Linked DNA regions of Homo sapiens. The protein of the gene in region 1 interacts with the protein of each later gene in a biochemical or structural test. Each region holds a gene or a part of one and is shown on either strand. Other genes may lie near its edges.

What was found. Proteins that work in one complex are often made in the same cells at the same time.
Region 2: the proteins of POU2F2 (region 1) and MNAT1 form a complex in vitro, tested with the Homo sapiens proteins (one study listed by BioGRID).
Region 3: the proteins of POU2F2 (region 1) and NR2F1 form a complex in vitro, tested with the Homo sapiens proteins (one study listed by BioGRID).

What each region holds. Positions count from the first base shown.
Region 1 is NC_000019.10:42,122,425-42,129,446, forward strand, and holds part of POU2F2 (POU domain, class 2, transcription factor 2), read right to left. Parts: intron 1,871-7,022; exon of another isoform or gene 1,755-1,870; intron 503-1,754; exon of another isoform or gene 301-502; coding exon of another isoform or gene 273-300; exon of another isoform or gene 263-272; intron 153-262; coding exon 87-152; intron 1-86. UniProt on the Homo sapiens protein: Transcription factor that specifically binds to the octamer motif (5'-ATTTGCAT-3'). Regulates IL6 expression in B cells with POU2AF1. Regulates transcription in a number of tissues in addition to activating immunoglobulin gene expression.
Region 2 is NC_000014.9:60,737,760-60,744,781, reverse strand, and holds part of MNAT1 (CDK-activating kinase assembly factor MAT1), read right to left. Parts: intron 1-7,022.
Region 3 is NC_000005.10:93,578,280-93,586,242, reverse strand, and holds the start of NR2F1 (COUP transcription factor 1), read right to left. Parts: upstream 3,022-7,963; 5' UTR 1,220-3,021; coding exon 757-1,219; exon of another isoform or gene 654-756; intron 1-653. UniProt on the Homo sapiens protein: Coup (chicken ovalbumin upstream promoter) transcription factor binds to the ovalbumin promoter and, in conjunction with another protein (S300-II) stimulates initiation of transcription. Binds to both direct repeats and palindromes of the 5'-AGGTCA-3' motif.

The DNA.
Region 1 (7,022 bases):
CACCTGTCCCCTCCCAGCTCTCTTCCCATCTGTCCCACTTCCCCTGCCCACGGTGACCCCTGCCCCCCTGCTCCCTGCCCACCCACCTGTGTGCTCTGATGGGGAGTCCAGACCTTGCTTCTCGGCCTCCAGGGGCTTAGACATTCTTATTTCTGGGGACAGAGGAGGAATGGAAGTGGGGTGAAGGAGGGGAATCCAGGAGGGCTCTCGGGCCCCCATTCCACCACACTCCCCAAGCCTTTCCCCCAAATTCCCCCCTTACCCCCAGCCACCTTGGAAGTGTCTCTTCCCAAGAGACATGTCCTCCGTTCTGGGCCTCTGCCCTCCTCTGGCAAGATGAGACACAGCACTTAGGCCTTGGGGGATCTTGCCTTATCCTTTCACCTCTCCAGAAAGTAACACAGGGGTGTTACCCACAGTGCAGCAAAGGGCAGGGCAGGAGATGGAAGGTGGTCGTGAGAAGGTATCAGCTGCCCAGGAGGAGGCTGGTGACGTCCCAAAGGAGGGAGAGCAGCCTTGGGCCTCCTCCTGGGGCGGGCCGCCCAGGCTCCCGTCCTGCCCTACCAGGTTTCGGGTGAGACATGTTTTCCACTCTGAGTGGGGCCTCAGAGATGTGATGGGGCTGCAGCGTCCCCAAAGGAGGCAGTTGTCAGATCTCAGCATGTGTGATTCAGCCGCCCTCTGGCCCTCTTCCCACCCCACCACTTTCCCCATCCACATCTTACTCCCACCTGGACTTTCTTCCTATGTTTAGCACACCGGCCTAGCAGACCCAACCTCATCCTCTGTAACCTCAGCTCCATCTGGCTCTACCCCTGAGCTTGTCCTCCAATCTAAACCTGATCTGGGACTTCACGCTTGAGCCCCAGCTGCAGTCTCAAGTCCACCCCTGTAATACAACCCCATTCTATAGCTCCCTAGGCCCAGGAAATGAAAGGAGGTGGCCAAGGGAGGGTGGCAGGCAGCAAGCACATAAACCCACGGAGACAAATGCCTGTCCTCAAAGCGCTCTGATACTTTTCACAGAAAGGCGAGTGCTCACCAGTGCCAAGCATAGAGCTAGATATGACTCACAGCTCACATTAGCGGTTAGTGCTAATATTACCCCGTTTTACAGAGGAGGAAACTGAGGCTCCACGAAGGGATGTCACCTCCCCAAAAGCACAGCAAGACAGCAGATGTGCCCTGATTGGACCCCTGGTCTTCATGACTGCTGGGCTCCTACTTCTAATCGGATCCACTCTAGTCTAATGTCCCCTAGTCCTGACTTCCAGCCATCTCATCTCCAACAGTTCCCTCGCCCAAGCTCATCCTGAAACTGAATCCAACCCTTCCTGGTCCTAGACCCCAGGACAAATCTGGGCTTCAGCCTGACCCATCCTTAGTCCACTTACTCACCTTGAATCCCAAGTTGTGCCCAGATGGCTCAAGTCCTTCATCTGACCTTGACTCCCAACTGTCCTGAGATCCTGTCCCTGATCCAAACTCTTCCCACAACTCACTCCAAAATCCCTGCCTAAACCATGACCCCACTCCTACTAAAGGAGCTGTCCAACTCTAGTGTTCTCTGCACCAAGATACTTAAAGAAGACAGCTAAGCCAGGCACAGTGGTTCACGCCTGCAATCCCAGCACTTTGGGAGACTGAGGCAGCCAGATCTCTTGAACCCAGGAGTTCAAGACCAGCCTAGGCAACATGGAGAAACCCCATCTCTACTAAAGACACAAAAATTAGCTGGGCATGATGGCACGCACCTGTAGTCCCAGCTATTGGGGAGGCTGAGGCAGGAGAATCGCTTGAATCCAGGAGGTCAAGGCTACAGTGAGCTGTGACTGCACCACTGCGCTCCAGCCTGGGTGACAGAGTGAGACCCTGTCTCAAAAAAAAAAAAAAAGAAAAAAAAAAAGAATGGAGCTAAAGTAAGGGATAAGAAATAGGAAGAACTCAGTAACTGTAAAAAAAAAAAAAAGTCTAGAAATCTTGCAATTGAGTATTATTCAATGTGAAATGCTGCTTGAGTTTTAAATTCCTAATTAAAAAAACAGGTCATGCATTGCTGGTGGGAGTGTAAATTGATACAAGCACCACTCAGAAAAGCTGAAAAGATGCCCTCTCCCTAAGATGCAGCACGTCCACTCCTGGGCATCTGCCCAAAAGAAACACGTGTCCTGCCCATCAAAGGACATGGGCAGAATTCTTCTGCAGTCTTTCATAATGGCCCCAAACTGGAAACAGCCTAAGGGGCCGTCAACAGGTGAATGGATAAATAAAATGTGGTATGTCCATACAATGAAATATGCCACAGTAATGAAAAAGAACAAACTCCTGCTTCATACACATGGCCGAAGCTTGGAGACATGAGGCTGAATGAAAGATGCCAAACACAAAGGCAGACATAATTTATGATTCCAATTACAGGAAATTCAAAAACGGGCAAGCTGATAGCAGATGATCACAGTCAGATGAGTGAGCACCTTGGGGGTACTGACTGGGAAAGGGCATGAGGAAGCCTGCACCAGGTAAGAAAGGATCTTGTTTGGTGGTTACAGGGTCCTTACATAAGCAAAAATTCATCAAGCTATACACTTAAAATTTGAGCACTTTACTCTATATACGTTATGTTTTAACAAGCAAGAAAACATTTAAAAGCTAAAAAGCAAAACGCCAGCACACAGTCCCATTAAGATGCACACTGCACCAAGGCAGGTAGATCACTTGAGGCTAGGAGTTTGAGACCAGCCTGGGCAACATAGTGAAATCCCCGTCTCTCCAAAAAATAAAAAAGTTAACCGGACATGATGGTGGTGGGCACCTACAGTCCCAGCTACTCAGTAGGCTGAGATGGGAAGGTCGCTCGAGCCCAGGAGATTGAGGCTACAGTGAGCCGTGATTGTACCACTGCACTCCAGCTTGGATAATAGAGCAAGACTCTGTCTCAAAAAAAAAAAAAAAGATGTAGACTGTTGAGGGTGGGGGTGGGGAGTGGGTGCCCAGGACGCTACCAGAGTTCAGGTCCTGTTTCCTGGCCCTGGGGACAGGGCATTAAATGGCTACTGATACAAGATATAAGAAGGACAAGAAGGGAGCTGGGCAGCAAGTGTGTCCTGACTTTGGAGCAGTAAAGGCGGGAATCCTGCCTGATCCTAGCTCTAGTTCACCCAGACCTTAGCCCTACTTCAGGCAGCCACTAACTCTAACCCGGTCCTAAATCCCACCCCTCCTAGCATCCCTAAAACTGCAGCCCCAGCCTCCTCTGGCCTCCGTCCCTCCAGCGGAGCTCCACATTGCCTCAGGGCAATCCTTTCCTGGCTCCTCCCTATCTCCTGGAGAAATAAACAACCTGGCCTCCAGGGGCTGGCCCACCACCCTGTACTGCTCTTCTCTTGCAGCTCATGCACAGTGCTCTTCACCCATGTCGAGCATCTCCCCCTGCTTGGGGGTCTGCTTGACAGCAGGCTGTGCAGGTTCTACACTCCCACCTAGCTGGGCATCCCTCTCCCGTCCACAGAACAGGGCAGCCTCGGACCCCACTGCCAGCCCAGAAAGTCCACACTCATCCTTAACCTCTGCTATGGGCTAAGTTGCATCTACCAAAATTCATACACGGAAGTCCTAATTCCTGATACCTCAAAATGTAATTGTATTTGGAGATAGGGTCTTTAAAGACGTAATTAAGGTAAAATAAGGTCATTAGGGTGGACCTTACTACAATCTGACTGGCATCCTTATAAGAAGAGGGGGCGGGCGCGGTGGCTCATGCCTGTAATCCCAGCACTTTGGGAGGCCGAGGTGGGCAGATCACCAGTTCAGGAGTTTGAGGCCAGCCTAACCAACAATGTGAAATCCTACCCCTACTAAAAATACAAAAATTAGCCGGGCATGGTAGTGTGTGCCTGTAATCCCAGCTACTCAGGAGGCTGAGGTAGGAGAATCACCTGAACCCAGGAGGCAGAGGTTGCAGGCAGCCGAGATCGTGCCACTGCACTACAGCCTGAGTGACAGAGCAAGACTCCATCTCAAAAAAAAAAAAAAAGAAGAAAAAGAGGGAATTAGGTCACAGATGGGAACAGAGGGAAGACCATATGAAGACCCAGGAGAAGACCAGTGGACCACAAGCCAAGGAGAGAGGCCTTGGAAGAGACCAACCCTGCTGACATCCTCGTCTTTAACTTACAGCCTCCGTAATTGTGAAAATGAATTTCTCTTATTTCAGCCACCTAGTCTGTGGTACTTTGATGTGGAAGCCCTAGCAAACTAAGCCTCTCACAGCCCCTGCCCTCCTGCTGTCCCATCCCTGAGCCCCCAGTTGTGGCTGTCTGTGTCCAGGTTCCTTCCCCACAAGACCAATGCGACAGGCCTGGTCTGACTCATCACTGGGTCCCCAGCATCACAAGCCCAGAACGGGTTGTAACTGCTGAATGTCCCTCTCTTTAGCAGTCTCTGTTTCCTACTACTTCTCACCCTTGTCTTACTGTCTCCCTGCTATTTATTTTATTTAATTTATATTTTGAGACAAGAGTCTTGCTCTGTCGGCCAGGCTGGAATGCAGTGGCACAATCACGGCTCACTGCAGCCTCGACCTCCTGGGGTCAAGCTATCCTCCCATCCCAGCCTCCTGAGTAGCTGGGACTACAGGTGTGCACCACCACATCCAGGGACTACAGCTGTGCACCACCACATCCAGCTAATTAAAAAAAAAATTTTTTTTTTTTGTAGAGACGGGTCTCCTTATGTTGTCCAGGCTGGTCTCAGACTCGTGGGCTCAAATGATCCTCATGCCTTGGCCTCCCAAAGTTCTGGGATTACAGCCATGAGCCACCATGCCTGCACTTTGCCATTTAAAACATTTCCTGAGGCCTTGGCATGGGCTGTTCCCTCTGTCTGGAACACTGTTCCCCAATCTGTCCACCTGGCGACCCCCGGACTCATCCTTCAGAACCCAGCATAAGCTCTGTTTTCTTTTCTTTTTTTTTGAGATGGAGTCTTGCTGTGTTGTCCAGGCTGGAGTGCAGTGGTGGGATCTCGGCTCACTGCAAGCTCCAGAGGTCTCCTGGGTTGAAGCAATTCCCTGCCTCAGGCTCCCAAATAGCTGGGATTACATGTGCGCGCCACTACGACTGGCTAATTTTTGTATATTTAGTAGAGAAGGGGTTTCACTGTGTTAGCCAGGATGGTCTCAATCTCCTGACCTCATGATCTGCCCACCTCAGCCTCCCAAAATGCTGGGATTACAGGCGTGAGCCACCACGCCCGGCCATAAGCTCTGTTTTCTATGAAACCACCACCTTGATGCCCCCAGCTCCCAGCCAGGTCTCTCTCCAGCTCCCCATACCCTAGCACCTTCCCTTGTCACTGTCTTAGAGGCTGACTGTAGCTAGCCGGGCCCCACTATGTCTCCCCTATCAGACTAGGAATTTTTCAAGGGCAGATCTGATCTCAGGTTCCTAAACACTCCCCAGCAGAAGACATGTGGATCAGTGGCCCCAAGGTCCTGATCTCCCTCCCCCAGGCCTTTGCCTCTGCTCGTCTCCCACTTGGGTGACCCTTTCCTTCTCTACTGGCAAACTCTTGCTCCTCTTTAAGGTCCAGCTCAAATGTCACCTCCTCTGTGAAGTACTCTCTGATTCCCCAGATGGTCAGTGTCTCTCTCTTCTGGGCTTCACTGACCCTGTACTGTGCTCCACCACATCCTGATCATCCTGGGCAGAGACCTCCACCCCAACTGTGGGCTCCTCAGGAGCCCAGGCTGGAGTCATTGCTGCACAGGCCTAGGAGTACGTCTTTGGAATGAATGAATGCATTAAAGAATCCCCTAACTGACCAGGGCCCAATCCTGTCTAAAACAAACCCCTATCTCTACTGTCACCCAACATCCCCAAGAAACCCTAACTTAAATCTTTAAGGTATGATTTCCTCTGCAGAGACTGTGGCTGGAAAGACAAGAGTGGTTTGAGGGAAATTTTTCACCATTCTGTTACCCTTATTCTCCCTAAATTATCCCAACCACTCCTACATATCCCTGCATACTCCCTGCCCCACACTTGGCTGGGTCACAACAAAATGGCCAACTGCTGCCCTTTGTCTTTTCTCTTTCCACCTCCCCTGTCAGAGCTCAATCTGAGAGAAGGGTCAGATCATTTCCACCAGGAATGAACAGGGAGCTCCATTTCCACCGTGGACTAAAAGCCAAATGACGCCTTAACAGGGACTCCAGGGCACTAGCAATCATAGACTTGGAGGGTCCATCAAATGGCTCGGCCTCAGCCTCAGCCTGAGCCCAGGCAGAGATGCCCATCGCCTATCACTCAACTCTAGAAAAATATTGATGCCTGTTCCCACCCTAGACTCTGATTTCAGTGGTACAGGGTGTGACTTGGGCATCCAGATATTTAAAAGCCCCTCCAGGTGATTCTCTTTTTTTTTTTTTAGACAGAGTCTCACTCTGTCGCCCAGGCTGGAGTGCAATGGTATGATCTCAGCTCACTGCAACCTTTGCCTCCTGGGTTCAAGCGATTCTCCTGCCTCAGCCTCCCGAGTAGCTGCAATTACAGGCATGCATCACCATGCCCGGCTAATTTTTGTATTTTTATTAGAGACGGGGTTTCACCATGTTGGGCAGGCTGGTCTCGAACTCCTGACCTCAAGTGATCCGCCCACCTCAGCATTCCAAAGTGCTGGGATTACAGGCATGAGCCACCGCACCCAGCCCCCTCCTGGTGATTCTAATGTGCTCCATCCCCTGGCACCTTCAGAAGCCCCTCTCAAAGCCTCATTCACACACAAAAGATTGGTTGGTTATGTATGGCTATTCCCACCCCTCATCATAGGTAATGTGTAATATTTTAGGGGAACTGAAAGAGAAAAAGCAATGCATAGCCCTACCAGGCCCCTTGGAGCCATGTTGCCCCTTGAATCCCACCTTCCTCAGGTCAGACACCCCTCAACCAGGGCTGCCCAGCCCTGAGCTCACACTCACTTGCCCGACTGCCCCAGGCCTGGGACTCTTGGTCCTCTCCACCCTC
Region 2 (7,022 bases), on another chromosome or scaffold:
AAGGCATATTCTAGGTGCACCCTAACAAAGACTAAAATCAAGCCCCAACAAGTTTTTGAAGGGATTAAAAATGTGAGGTTGAGTTACACTAAAGTAAGGAAACAATGGGTTCTCCACATATCATTCTAGCAAAGAGTAAAACCAAGCCTACACAAGTTCAAAGTTATCTGCCAGTAACTGAACTACCTGCAAGAATTTTTAAAATCAACACTTTTCACAAAAATACAAAATCCAGAATCTCTATAATATACCACCTACAATTAAAAAGTAGTAAACATGCAAAAATAAATAAGCAGAAAACTGTAACCTACAGTCAAATAAAAGCAGTCAATAGAAACCAACCCTGAGATGGCTGGGCGTGATGGCTCACACCTGTAATCCCCGCACTTTGGGAGGCCGAGGCACGCAGATCACTTGAGGTCAAGAGCTTGGGACCAGCCTGGCCAACAGGGCAAAACCCCATCTCTACTAAAAATACAAAAATTAGCCAGGCATGGTAGCAGGCACCTGTAATCCCAGCTACTTGGGAGGCTGATGCAGGAGAATCACTTGAACCTAAGAGGTGGAGGTTGCAGTGAGCCAAGATCATGCCACTGCACTCCAGCATGGGCAACAGAGTGAGGCTCTCTCAAAAACACAAACAAAAAAGAAACCAACCCTGAGATAGCCAAGGAGTTAACTCTTACAGACAGAAACCTTAAGATTGACTATCATAAATATTTTAAAGGAATTAATGGAAAATATGTTCAAAAAATTAAAGGAAAATGCATTCAAAGAACTAAAGAAAAATATATTCTTGATGAGTATATAGATGGGAAATATCAGAGAAATGAAAACTATAAAAAAGATAAAAATGAAAACTCTACGACCAAAACAATACAATAAGAAATGAAAAATCTATTGGATGAGATTAGAAATGGCAGACAGGCAACAGTGAACCTGAAGATAGATCAATAGAAAATATATAATCTAAAGAACAGGGAGAAAGAGATATGAGTAAAATTAACTTCTCAACAGAAACACTAGAGAACAATGAAATGATATCTTTTGTATGGTCAAAGAAATGCCAACCCATAATTCTATATTCAGCAAAAATATCCTTCAAACACTAGGGTGAAATAAAAACACTTTCTTATAAACAAAATCAGAGTATATTCTTCACCAACACACCTACACTATAAGAAATGCTAAGGAGCTGGGCGCAGTGGCTCACGCCTGTAATCTCAGCACTTTGAGAGGCTGAGGCAGGCGAATCACCTGAGGTCAGGAGTTCAAGGCCAGCCTGGCCAACATGGTGAAACTCCATCTCTACTGAAAATACAAAAATTAGCCGGGCATGGTGGCACACACCTGTAATCCCAGTTACTCAAGAGGCTGAGGCAGGAGAATCGCTTGAACCTGGGAGGCGGAGGCTGCAGTGAGCCGAGATTGTGCCATTGTACTCCAGCCTGGGCGACAGAGCAAGACTCCGTCTCAAAAAAAAAAAGAAATGCTAAAGAATGTTCTTTAGGCAGATGGAAATCAATATGACTATAAAATCAGATCCAAAGGAAGAAGGGCAATATCAAAGATAGTAAATAGGTGAAAATAAGAGACTATATTTCACCACTTCATACCCACTAGAATGGCTATAATCAAAAGACAACTATAACAAGCATTGGCAACTACATAGAGAGACTAGAGCCCTCATTCACTGCTATAAGATGGTACAGCCACATTGGAAAACAAACTAAACAAAGAGTTACCATATGATCCAATAATTCTACTCCTAAATATATACATGAGAGAAACAAAAACATTTGTCCATACGAAAACTTGTACATGAATGTTCACAGCAGCATTATTCATAACAGCCAAAAAGTAGAAATGACTCAAATGTTCTTCAACTGATGAATGGATAAAATGTAGTATAGCCATACAATGGAATAATATTCAGCAATAAAAAGAAATGTTGTACTCATACATGCTACAACATGGATGAACCTAGAAAATATTACACTATGTAAAAGAAGCCAGTCCAGAGAACCACATACTGTATGATTCCATTTATATGAAAGGTCCAGAATAGGAAAATCTACATAGTCAGAAAGTAGATAACTGGTTGCCTAGTGCTATGGGAGGGGGGAGTTGAGGAGTGTGACGGCTAAGTGGTGAGAGGTATCTTTGTGGGGTAATATGTACATCTCTGAGAATATACTAAAAGCCATTGAAACGTACACTTTAAATGTGTGAATTTTATGGTACGTGAATTATATTCAGTGAAGTAGTTTTTTAAAAACATACCTTTCCTTAAAGACAACTGACTGTTTAAAGCAAAAATAACAACAAATCACAAATACAAATAAAAGATATGCTGAAAGAAACCACTAATAATAATAATAACAATGAGGAGTTAATTGTTGGCCATAAAAGGTGACTGTAATCCCAGAACTTTGGGAGGCTGAGGTGGGTAGATCACTTGAGGCCAGGAGTTTGAGACCAGCCTGGGCAACACAGTCAGAGACTAGCTCTACAAAAAAAAATTAAAAATTAGCTGGCTGTGGCAGTGCACACCTGTAGTCCCAAATTCTGGGGTGGCTGAAGTGGAAGGATCCCTTGAACCCCTGAGTTCAAGGTTGCAGTGACCTGTGATAAAGCCACCACACTCCAGCCTGGGTGATAGAGTGAGATCCTGTCTCTTATTTAAAAAAAAATAAAAATAAATAAAAAATAAAAAGCTACCGGCTAATAGGCCAATACTTTAAAAAATCCAATTATTTCAAAATAAGGCAGGAAAGGAGCAAAAGAACAACAAAAAAACCAAAGGAATACAAGGAAACATGTAGACTTAAACCCAATGATATCAATAATTAGATATAATGGACTAGTACACCAATTAAAAGGCAGAGATTGTCAATCCAGATAAAATGGCAAGACCCAGTGAAGTAGAGTCTCCCAGAGACAGACACAAATTGGTTGAAAGTAAATGGATGGGGGCCAGGTACAGCAGCTCACTCTTGTAATACCTACATTTTGGGAGGCCCAGGCAGGAGGATCACTTGCGCTCAGGCGTTTGAGACCAGCTTGGGAAACATAGCAAGACCCCATCTCTACTAAAAATTAAAAAAAAAAAAAAAAAAAAAACCCCAGGCGCAGTGGCTCACGCCTGTAATCCCAGCACTTTGGGAGGCCGAGGCAGGAGGATCACGAGGTCAGGAGATCGAGACCATCCTGGCTAACACAGTGAAACCCTGTCTCTATTAAAAATACAAAAAATTAGCCAGACGTGGTGGCCCGTGCCTGTAATCCCAGCTACTCGGAAGGCTGAGGCAGGAGAATGGTGTGAACCTGGGAGGCGGAGCTTGCCGTGAGCTGAGATCGCGCCACTGCACTCCAGCCTGGGCAACAGAGCGAGATTCCATCTCAAAAAATAAAAATAATAAATACATAAATAAATAAATAAGCCAGGTGTGGTGCCATGCACCTGTAGTCCTAGCTACTCAAGAGGATGAGGCAGGAGGATCATTTGAGCCCAGGAGTTTATGATTGTGCCACTGATATTACATGGGTTAAAAAATTTTTTTAAAGTAAATGAACGGAAAAATGCACACTATCAAATAGTAAGCACAAGAAATCTGACAGTGCCAAATTATTATCAGACAGAATCTTCAGGAAAAAGCATATTACAAGAGACAAAGAGGGCCATTTCATAATGATAAAAGGAGAAATGTATTAGGAAGGCATAACAATCCCAAATATGTACCCAACAAGAGAGTTCCAAAATGCATAAAGTATGACAAAACTTACAAGAAAAACTGACAAATCTATAATCATAGTGGAGTAATTCATAAGATGAGTAGATAAAATAAATTAATAAAGATACAGAAGATCTGGTAATGCTATCAACCAAGATGGGTATGGTAATATGTACCACGTTTATAACTTATACTACACTACACCCAACAACCACAGAATGTATATTCTTTTCAAATGTACACTGATTGTTCACAAAGACAGGCCATATGCTGGACCATAAGCAAGCTTTCAGAAAACTTCAAAAGACTGAAATTTTATAGAGTATATCCTCTTATCACAACAGAAAATTATAAAATAATATATCTAGAATGTTCCTGTTCTAAATCTTCCACCTAAAATAAGTGCCTTTTCCTAATTTTCTACCCAGAGGGGGCTCTGTTTCCCAATTTGCACAAAGGTACTGAATAAGATCAGTATATTAAATGAGTTAACACCACTTATTATTCTTATCAACAAATAAATTCAAACTTAATCTGATAAAACTTTTAAACATAACTAACAATTTAGAGGAAATACTGAGAACAGAAGAACATATTTAACAATATCACAGAGATGCAATAAGCAAAATTCGGACTCTTCAGGATAAACTATCCAGTAACATCAGTAAATGAGAGAGAAATAGGAGAACAGAAAAAAAAGGGAAAAAAAGAAAGAGAAAGATGTTAAGTAACTATCACAAAACATTGCCTTTATATATCAAGATGGTAGGTACTTGATTTTGCTTATCTTGTACTTTGCGTCTCGTGCGTGATGAAAAAAGTAGATTTAGCACATAAAATTTCCAGAGACAGGTTTTGCCAAGAATGGTTGGGATAGAAATTAATTTTTTTTTAAGATGGAGTCTTGCTCTGTAGCCTAGGCTGGAGTGCAGTGGTGTGATCTCGGCTCACTGCAACCTCTGCCTCCCAGGTTCAAGTGATTCTCCTGCCTTAGCCTCCCCAAGTACCTGGGATTACATGCCCATGCCACCACACCCAGCTAATTATTGTATTTTTAGTAGAGACGGGGTTTCACTATGTTGGCCAGGATGGTCTCGAACTCCTGACCTCAGGTGATCCACCCGCCTCAGCCTCCCAAAGTGCTGGGATTACAGGCGTAAGCCACTGCACCCAGACAGAAATTAAATTATTAAAGGCTGTAGTTAAATGAGAATTAGATACCACTGCCTCCATCTAATTCTATATGCCTTCAGAATGGAAGGCCCATTTCTTGAAATAGGTGGCCTGATAAAGAAAAAAAATTACCATTTTCTGTAATTGAGACAATGTTCATCCTTGAACAGAAAAAATTAAAAAAAGAACATGAAATCCAATCTTCTTCTATATGCATACAATCAATTCATTTGTGCATTTGCTAGATTAAATTGATAAGTAGGGAAATATGCTTCTTCAATTGCTAGCAGCTAAGAGACAAAGGTATTTAATAATGTTTCACCTCTTTTCTCTCCTCTCTGCTCCTGTATTTTCTCCCATAAGTAAAACTCCTAGTTAATTTTTCCATAACCCTATAGTTCCTCTTTTATGAAGCACTACTCCTACTCACTTTATCACTTGCCTCCAAAAAGTCTTTGCTACTTGAGGACATGAAAAAAAAAAAAATAAGTTAATAAAATCCTGCGGAAGCCAGCCTTCAAGATAGCCCAATGATATTCACACTCTTGGTATTCACACTCTTGTGTGTACTCTCCCACATTATAACACTACAAAACACCAGAGGTGATGGTATATCACTTCTATCATTAGGTTTTAAAAGGCTCTACAGCTTCCAGTTCCCTTCCTCCCTCCCTTTCTCTCTTCTCCCATCCATCTCTCCAATCTTCCTTACCTCCGCTCATATCACTAGTTCTGGGAGAAGCCACGTCATAAGTAGCCCTATGGAAGAGTCCATGGGGAGGAACTGAAGCCTCCTGACAAGAGCCACATGAGTGACCTTGGAAACAGATACTCCAGGCCCAGTCAAATCTAGACTGCAGTCCTAGCCAACAACTTGATTACAACATCCTAAGACCGAGCCAGAATCATTCAGCAAAATAATACCTGCTCTTCTCAGACTAACAAGCATATTATAAAAATGCCTATATTCAATCCCATGAAATATATGCCATAAAAACTCAACAAACTATCAAAAAATTTTTCATTAAGAGCCAAAATGAGGCTGGACACGGTGGCTCACGCCTGTAATCTCAGCACTTTGGGATGCCAAAGCGGGTGGATCACCTGAGGTCGGGAGTTCAAGACCAGCCTGACCAACATGGAGAAACCCCATCTCTACTAAAACTACAAAATTAGCCAGAGGTAGTGGCGCATGTCTGTAATCCCAGCTACTCGGAAGGCTGAGACAGGAGAACTGCTTGAACCCGGGAGGCAGAGGTTGTGGTGAGCTATCACGCCATTGCACTCCAGCCTGGGCAACAAGAGCAAAACTCCATCTCAGGCCGGGCGCAGTGGCTCACACCTGTAATCCCAGCACTTTGGGAGGATCGAGGCGGCTGGATCACGAAGTCAGTAGTTCGAGACCAGCCTGGCCAACATAGTGAAACCCCGTCTCTACTAAAAATACAAAAATTAGCCGGGCATGGTGGCATGCGACTGTAGTCCCAGCTACTCGGGAGTCTGAGGCAGGAGAATCACTTGAACCTGGGAGGTGGAGGTTGCAGTGAGCCTAGATCATGCCACGGCACTCCAGCTTGTGTGACAGAGCAAAACTTCGTCTCAAAAAAAAAAAAAAAAAAAATCCAAGATGTTTTTCTTATCAGAAAAGCATCTGATAAGATGCTTTTAAACATCTTTTAAAATGCAAGATTTTAAAAAATAATATTAGCCAATATAGGCAAAGTTGTGTGGCAATAGGAATCTCCATACAGTTGTTGGTAACATAATTGACAAGATCTTTTTTTTTTTTTTTTTGTAAGATAGGGTTTCCCTCCTGGCTAACACGCTGAAACCCCGTCTCTACTAAAAATACAAAAAAATTAGCCGGGCGTGGTAGCGGGCGCCTGTAGTCCCAGCTACTCGGGAGGCTGAGGCAGGACAATGGCGTGAACCCGGGAGGCGGAGCTTGCAGTGAGCCGAGATTGCGCCACTGCACTCTAGCCTGGGCGACAGAGCGAGACTCCTTCTCAAAAAAAAAAAAAAAGGATAGGGTTTCCCTATGTTGTCCAAGTTGGTCTCGAACCCTCCCTCCTCAGCCTCCCAAGTAGCTAGGATTACAGGTAGGAACAACCATGC
Region 3 (7,963 bases), on another chromosome or scaffold:
TATCATGCTTTAAAAAAAATGACACAACTATGAAAGCACGGTTCAGTCACAAACTTTCCTTTCAAAGTAGAGGGGTGAAAACAAGGCCACAGCTCTGGAGGAGGCGGCCCCAGCTCCGTGAAGAAGAGAGGGAACCAGTGAACGGGCCAGAAGCCCCCCTTCCCCCCTAATTAGACCTACAAGTGCAATAAATCTCACTCCTCTTTTTCCGAGCTAAGCTTCCAAAAGGATGATGGCAGCAATGAATCTATGGTTCAGGGTACTCCAGCCCCCAGCCCTCCCCCATTTTAAATAAAGGGTATGAAGAGGTGGAGGGAAAAGTGGAATGAAAAAAAACCACAGAAACAGAGTTTTCTGGGGGAAATAAGCACCCCTCCCCAAGTTCATGCCAGCACAGCCCCAAGCAGCCTCACGCACACGCGGGAAAGAGACACACACCGAGCACATCCAAGACAGAGGGAAGAAGGGGATTTTAAGCCACAGCTCACGATCTCAGGGACACAATCCTGAGCAGGCAGCGGGCGGGGTGGGGGAGCCGGGGAGATGAGCGCAGGCCGGGAGGGGGAGGCAGCGGCAGCGAGCTGGGGAGGGCGGGGGGAGACGCCGGGGGAGGAAGGCAGCCGGGAGAAGGAAAGCTGGGACGGGCCGGGACCACAGGAGCCCCAGCCCCACACAGCAACCACCCGGGCGAGAAAGAAAGAAAGAGCCAGGGAGGCGGGCGAAGCGCGGGGAGAGAAGCAGAGAAGAAATATTCACCTTCCCGCCTCATGCCCACTTTGAGGCACTTCTTGAGGCGGCAGTATTGGCACTGGTTGCGGTGGTGCTGGTCGATGGGACAGTTCCTGTTGGCACGGCATGTGTAAGTTAAGTTCCTGCGGACGCTCCTCTTGAAGAAACTTTTGCAGCCCTCGCAGGTGAATTGGCCGTAGTGCTTGCCGCTCGACTTGTCCCCGCACACCACGCACTCGATGTGCTGCTGGCTCTGGCCCGAACCGGGCGGGCCCTGGCCCTTGTCCCCCGCCGTGCCGGGGGTGGCGGGCGCTCCGGGCTGGCCCGGGGTCTGCGGCGTGTGCGGCGCGCCCGAGCCCGCCTGCTGCTGCTGCTCGCCGGCGCCGCCGCCGCCGCCGCGGGCCGCCTGCGCTGCGGGGTTGGGGCCGCCGGGGTTGCCCCCGGCCACGTCGTCCTGCGGATCTCGCCAGCTGCTAACTACCATTGCCATATCTTTGGGCCCGGGGAGCGCTGGGGGGAGCCGAGCTGCTCGCCGAGGGCCGCGGGGCGCGCGGGCGCGCTGGGAGGGGAAGGGGAAGGGGAAGGGGGGAGGGGGAGGGGGCGGGGGGCCCGCCGGGCGCCCCGGGGTCGCAGGAGCCGAGCCCGAGCCGGACACCGGCCGCTGCCTCCGCCGCCGCCGCCGCTGCCGCCGCTACTGCCTCGGCCGCCCCGCTGCTGCTGCGCGCCCGCCCGCCCTGCTGGCGTTTTGTTGTGGTTCCTGCTGTTTTCTTTCTCTCTTTTTGCAGCCCCCCCAGGCTCTCAGGCTCCCCCCCCAACACCCCTGCTCCCCTCGCCCGCTCCCCCCGCGCTCCGTTCCTGGGGGGGCCGCGCTCTCCTTCCCCCCTCCCCACCCCCCGGCGAGCAAGCTCCCTTCTCTCGCTTTTTTCTTCTTCCCCAAGTTGCAAAATCAGAAATGGCACAGGCGGCAGCCGGGAGCGGCGCGGGGCGCAGCGCCGGGGGCGGCGGGCATGGGCCACGGCGCGCGCACACACTCGCCCTCCGCCTCGCCCGCACCCCCGCGCACACACACACTCGCACACACAGTCGCTCACCCGCGCCGGGCGCCCGCCCGCCGGCCGCTCGGGCTACGCGCAGCGCGCGGGCTGAGCCGACATAGAGGAAGCCGGCGAGGGCGGAGGCGGCGGCGGCGGCGGAGGAGGAGGAGGTCGCGGCTGCAGGCGCCGCTGGAGCTGCCGCCGGAGCTGCTGCGGCGAGCGCCGCTGGAGGAGCCGGGACCCGGGCCGGAGTCCGAGCAGGAGTCGGGGCCGCAGCCGGAGCGCGAGCGGAGGCCGGGGCCGCCCGCGGCGCCGCCGCTGTCCCGGCGGGAGCCCTCGCCGGGCTCGGGAGTGCGGGGAGCGCGGTGAGCCGAGCAGGGCGCTGGGCGAGGCTGCCGCCGGCGATCAGGGCGCGCGGGTGTCGGGGGGCCAGGTCCAGGGCCGGACGCAGCCAGCCATTCAGGAAGGCAGCGCTGGAGAGCGGGAGGCAGCCGGCGAGGAAGATCACACACTTTGCTCTTTTTGTTGTGCCGGTGGCGCCGGGCTCTCGCTGCCTTCTTCTTTCGGGAGGTGACGGAAGGGGGAGAAAAATACGGGATAATTCACGCCGGCGACGAAATCACAGCGAAATAGAAAAAATAAAAATCAGAAGAAAATAATTGCCAAAAAAAGGAAAAAGGAAAAGCGAGAGAGACATCCAAAGTAGGTCGAATAAATAATCCTCTTCTTTTCCTCTTTCTTGCTCCTTCTTCTGCTTCTTCTGCTATAACACACAGAGCTAGTTAAAAAAACCCTGGAGATCGCCCAAAAATGTTCTTTTTTTAGTATTTTAAATAAGTGCTCTTCAGCCGGCAACCAACACCCTCCCTCCAAAAAAAATCATATATGTATAAAATAACGATAAGAAGAATACGAAGGGGGTGCCTCCTCCTCCTCCTCCTCCTTTTTTTTTTCTTTAAGTTTAGCCCTCTCTCTTCTGCAGGAATGGAGTAAAAGAGACAAGGAGGAGGGAGAAAAAGGAGAGAAAGGAGAAGAAGAAGGGGAAAACAACTAGTAGAATATGTAAGAAAAGAGAAAGAGAAGAGAGGTTCAGAGAAGAGAGGAGAGAGAGAGGAGAGGAGGGAGAGAGGGGGGAGAAAGAGGAGAGAGAGAGAGGAGAGAGAGAGAGAGAGAGAAGAGAAGAAGAGAGAGAGAGAGAGAGAGAGAGACCCAAAAATTGAATGCGTTTAAACGGGAGGACTCGCAGAGCAATGTTTCCGAAAGGGGGATCTGCGCGAATGTCTGTATATAGTGAACTTTGACACTACTATTGAAACTGACACGTTTCTATGGAGATCGCTGCCTTATATGGAGCTCGTGTCAAGGAGCCAAGAGAAGGGCTGCTGGCAACTGATAATCAAAGGCGACTGACTGGTCAGAGCCCTGAATCGGGGGGAGAGAAAATGGGAGGCTAAGGTTAGCCAAGCCTCCTGCACGCCATTGGTTGGAGAGCCCCTCCCCCCTCCTCTTTTGCTTTCTTTCTCCCCCCCCCGCTTAGCTACCTACAGACTGGGATGGTGTGGGGAGGAGGAGAGAAAGTGAGGGAGGGGGGTGTGTTTCTGACAAGCGCAATTTACATTGAGATCGCCCTGCGCTGCTATTTACTCTGAGACCTGATTAGTATGGGTCGTCTATGGTCACACACACACACACATACACACACACACACTTACGCTCACACCCCAGAGGGGGAAGGGATGACGAGGGGGAGAACGCCTAGCGATGGGCAAAAGGAGAATTAGAGGGAAATTATTTTGATTTCTTCTGAAAAGTTTTTAAAATTAGATTTTATGAGCGTGAAGAGAGTGTCATTGAAAATGTTTGGAAAAATTTTTAATGGGAATGAAACCCCCACCATTTTAATGATTTGTGAAATATACTGGATTTGGATTGTTTTCTTCTCTCACATATAAGCACAATCCAAGTCTGGATTCTGCTCATTTTATATCCTTTTTAGAAACAAGTAGAAACAGGGTAGGATCTCCCTATTTTTTAATCCAAAGTATACCTTGGTTTAAAAGGTTTAATGATGACAAAGCACACTCCTGGAATTTGCAGCTATTGCCACAAATTCGATCGGAATCAAGGGTTCCTATTTATCCCAAAGATGATTTTAAAAATAAACTTTCCAATCAATCCAATTTTTCCTTCTTCTTTTTTTTTTTTTTTATCACCTGGCTGTTCCAAACTCCAACAATGCTTCAATCATTATTAATAAAACAGTAGTAAGTCCCCATATTGTTGCAGGGTGGGGGGAGATTAGTGTGGCCAAGTCAGTCCCGGGAAAAGAGCAAACAAACGAGAAGATGGAGAGGGGGGGAGGCGGAGAGGGAGAGAGAAAAGGGGGAGGAGGAGAGAGAGAGACAGAGAGAGAGGAGAGGAAAGGAAAGAGAGGAGAGAGGAGAGCGCGCGAGATATTGAGAGAGAGAGAGAGAGAAGAGAGGAGAGGGGAGAGAGAGAGAGAGGAGAGAGAGAGAGACCCAGAGAGAGAGGAGAGAGAGAGAGACCCAGAGAGAGAGAGAGAGAGAGAGACCCAGAGAGAGAGAGAGAGACCGAGAGAGAGAGGAGAGAGGAGAGAGAGAGAGAGGAGAGAGAGAGAGAGAGGAGAGAGAGAGAGAGAGAGACGAGAGGGAGAGGGAGAGGGAGAGGGAGAGGGAGAGGGAGAGGGAGAGGGAGAGAGGAGAGGGAGAGGGAGAGGGAGAGGGGGAGAGAGAGAGAGAGAGAGAGAGAGAGAGAGAGAGAGAGAGAGAGAGAGAGAGAGAGAGAGAGAGACCGAGACCCCGATTCCTGAATCCTGAAGGTGATTGGTCGCGGGAGGAGGGGCAGGCGGGAGGAGCGGGTCCCGCGGCGGGGCTTGCAGGAATCGCTGGCTCCGGCTGCCACCTAGCGGACGGGAGCCGCTCCCGGGCGGCACACAGCCGAGTCCCTCCTCCCCTCCCCGCAGGCAGCCTGTGCCTTTTCTCCAAACGAAGACAGCACTTTGAAAATTCTTTCAATGGATTTTTTTTTCCTTGAAAGATCGTACTGGGGGAAAATGATACTTCTATTAGTTACATATTCTCCAATCGCATACTCGCACCCCCCTCGTTTTGAGATCGCTCCCCTAGGCAGGCTCAGGCGGGCGCGGAGCCGCGCGGAGTGACAAAGCCGCCGCTGCCGCCGCCGGGGGTGGGAGCCGCGCTCGCCCGCCCGCCCCTCGACTCGCGAGGGCGTAAAAGTTTGTCTCAGCTCGAGCATTCCTAGCGCCAACACGCCCTCAGGTAAAGGTGGAAGTAAATGGCCACGCTGTATTGACAGAGGTAGGGTTTGTTTTTTAATACTCGTTCTCACTTTAAGTCTCACCAGGGAGGGGTTTGGGAAGCACTGCGTGTTTGGGGGACGTTTTGCGCTTCCTGGTCTCTCCAGCCTACAAGTCGGGAGTCGGCGACCGCTTAGTGACGAGCGATGATTTTAAAGAGCAGAATAAAAGGTTTTCCCGTGCCTGCCCCACAGCCCCTCCAGCTCGAATAATGGAGAACTGTCAATGCACTCCGCGAGCGGTGGCCCATTGTACGCAGCTGATGGCGAGGAGGCGACTGGGGGTAGCAGGGGCTCCTTGCCCTCGTCCCTATGCCCAAATAAACGCGCAAACGCGCTCCCGTCTTCTGGTCAGTTAAAAGGTGAAACGAACACGATTAAAATAGACCAAAAGAAAAGAAAGAAAAGAAAACCTTTCTATGTACAGATTCTAAATCGTACTCCCCATACAGTCAGAGGCAGGGAGTCGAGGGCAGAGGCAGCAGGCGGAGAGAGGGAGATAGGGCGAGGGAAGGAGAACGCGGAGAGAGACGAAGGGAGTGGGAGACCAGCGACAGCGAGCGCCAGGGCACCGCAGGCACACTGGATGCCCAGTCCGCCGGCCCAGCCGCCCTCGGACCCTGGACCGTGCGTCGTGGGCACCAGAAACGAGACTCGGCCAAATCCTGCCTCACCAGGCAAGTAACATAATGGTTGTCGTTTCTCTTGAACTTGGGGTTGGTAACGGGCAGGGCCGGGAGGCAGTCTTGGCTCGCACGGCCTCCGCAGGCCGAGAGCAGAGTCTAGGCAGCCAGGGCGGGACGAGGAGAACTTTCTTCGGGGCCTGCTCGGGAGTTGCCCTCGCTCGGCCTCTGTCTCGCCGTAGCGCTAAGGCGAGGATCGCGGCCGCCGCGCCTCCTTGGAGGGGAGGATCGTGCCAGGCGAGCAGCAATCCACATTCAAAACAGGCTGCTCCCACCCCCACCCGCTATTCCCTCTCTCTCCTAGGCGGGAAACGGATGCCCGGGCGGAGGACGGGGACCCGCACGTTTAACACCGGCCCGGCTGTTCCTGCTGGTGCCGAGCGCGACCCGCGGTGGAGCCGGCTGCAGAGTCCGGCCCGGCTGGCCCTTGTGCCCGCGCCTTGCCTGGTTACGGCCTGAACCTGGCGAGCTTGGCTGCAGCCGCCCACCTGCGGACGCCGTTTGTAACGCCATCCCCTAATGTAACGCGATCGATGGCTGCCTGTCTGATGTGGGCGATAGTGTCAGCGGATTAAAAGGGACATCGAGCCGCTCTCCCGAGCAGACAACCTGCGGCGGCGGCGAGAGAGCACCGGGATTCGCAGCCTAGCAGCCGAGCCAGACTCCCTGCGCCGCTGCCAGCCGGCTGGGGGCGGGGAGGGGGTCGCCTCCCAGGGGTGGGGACAGAGGGGGTGTGTTGAAAGGAAGAGGCTCAATTAAAACCAACAAGAGCGCTTTCCTCCGTGCGGGGCAGGGGCGTGCGTTTGCGTCAGAGGGCGCGCGGGGGGCGGGGGCAGCCGATGCTGGGGACTGCACCCGGGGGCTGGGGGGTCTCGGAAGCGAGGAGGCCTTGCCTAGCTGGGCTGGCCCGGGGTCAGGCCCTGTAGGTGAGGGCCAAGGCGAGACGGGATGACAGCTGAGCCTGCCCGGGAGCAGAGGCGCCCACCCATCCTTACTGTGGGCTCTCCGTGCCCCCACAGAGCTTTCAAACTTGAAAGAGGCCCCTGGGACCCGGCGTGACCCTAGCGGTGGGGAGAAGTTGGGCCCGCGAGGCCTCAGGCGAAGCCGCGGGCTCCTCCGGAAGGAAGGAGGAGGGTGAAGTCCCCTGTCCTAGTCCCAGGGGTGGGAGTGGGAAGCTGTTGGTGGTGATGCCCGGAGCAGCGGAAGCCCGCGGCTTTTCGGAGGAGGGGAGCGGCTCGCACTCCTACGGGGCATCCTTGCCAACTTTCTGTCACAAGAGGGGGCGGGGAGAAACCAAGGCTTTTCGAGGAGGGCGCTGTCCCCCTCTGGAACTCGTCCGGCCTGAGTGGCACTTAGAGCTCAGTTTCTCTTCGGAAGCCTGTGCTCCCCGACCGCGGTTGCACACCCACAGGGCGCCCCACTTGTGCTCATAGCCCTGCCTCCAGCAAAAATGTCTTCCCTAGAGGCACTGAGAGGTCAGCTTAGTTCCTGGGAAGCCCTTTCTTTCTTTCTTCAAGGCTCTCTTTTGATACTGGTCCCAATTGGCACACTTGTCCTGGGCCTAATGCGACCCACACTCAACCAGGAAATAATGATATCTGTTGTTGTGGGGTAGGGTACCTAATAGAAAACTGATCATAGTTTTCGAGAGTACTTAGATCCCCCAATTGGGAAATCCTACATACTTGTCCAGGCACGCTCAGCTGCAGGAGCAGAAAACGCAGTTGTAGTGTCCACGTTTCTTTCACCCACCCCCTCTTCTTCAGATCTCTCTCCCTCCCTTCTAGGCCAGGCCTTTCACCTCGGAACCTTAAGCTGAGTCTGGACGTGGTTCTTGGACTCGGACCGCTGTGGCTCTTGCCTCAGCATCCTACCCGAGGCCTCCAGCCAGGCCCACAGGGGCTCAGCCCTCTCCAGGGTCTCTCTTTCGGTTTGGCGGGTCTGGGAACTGTAAGGGCCTTGCCGGGGCCTGGGCTCCCGGGAGCCTCCCTTCCTTCCTCTGCCTTCCTGGTTCCCACAGACCTGTTCAGTGCACACTAGATCTTTAGTGTAGTTCCCCAAAAAGGCGATGAGAAGGTACCGCTCCGCTTGGGGAAAGGAATTAGGCTGTAAGCCTATAGTACCCCTTGCGGGCTGCTAGCATCAAGCTCAGCGTTAATCACGTTTTAAAAGACATACCAG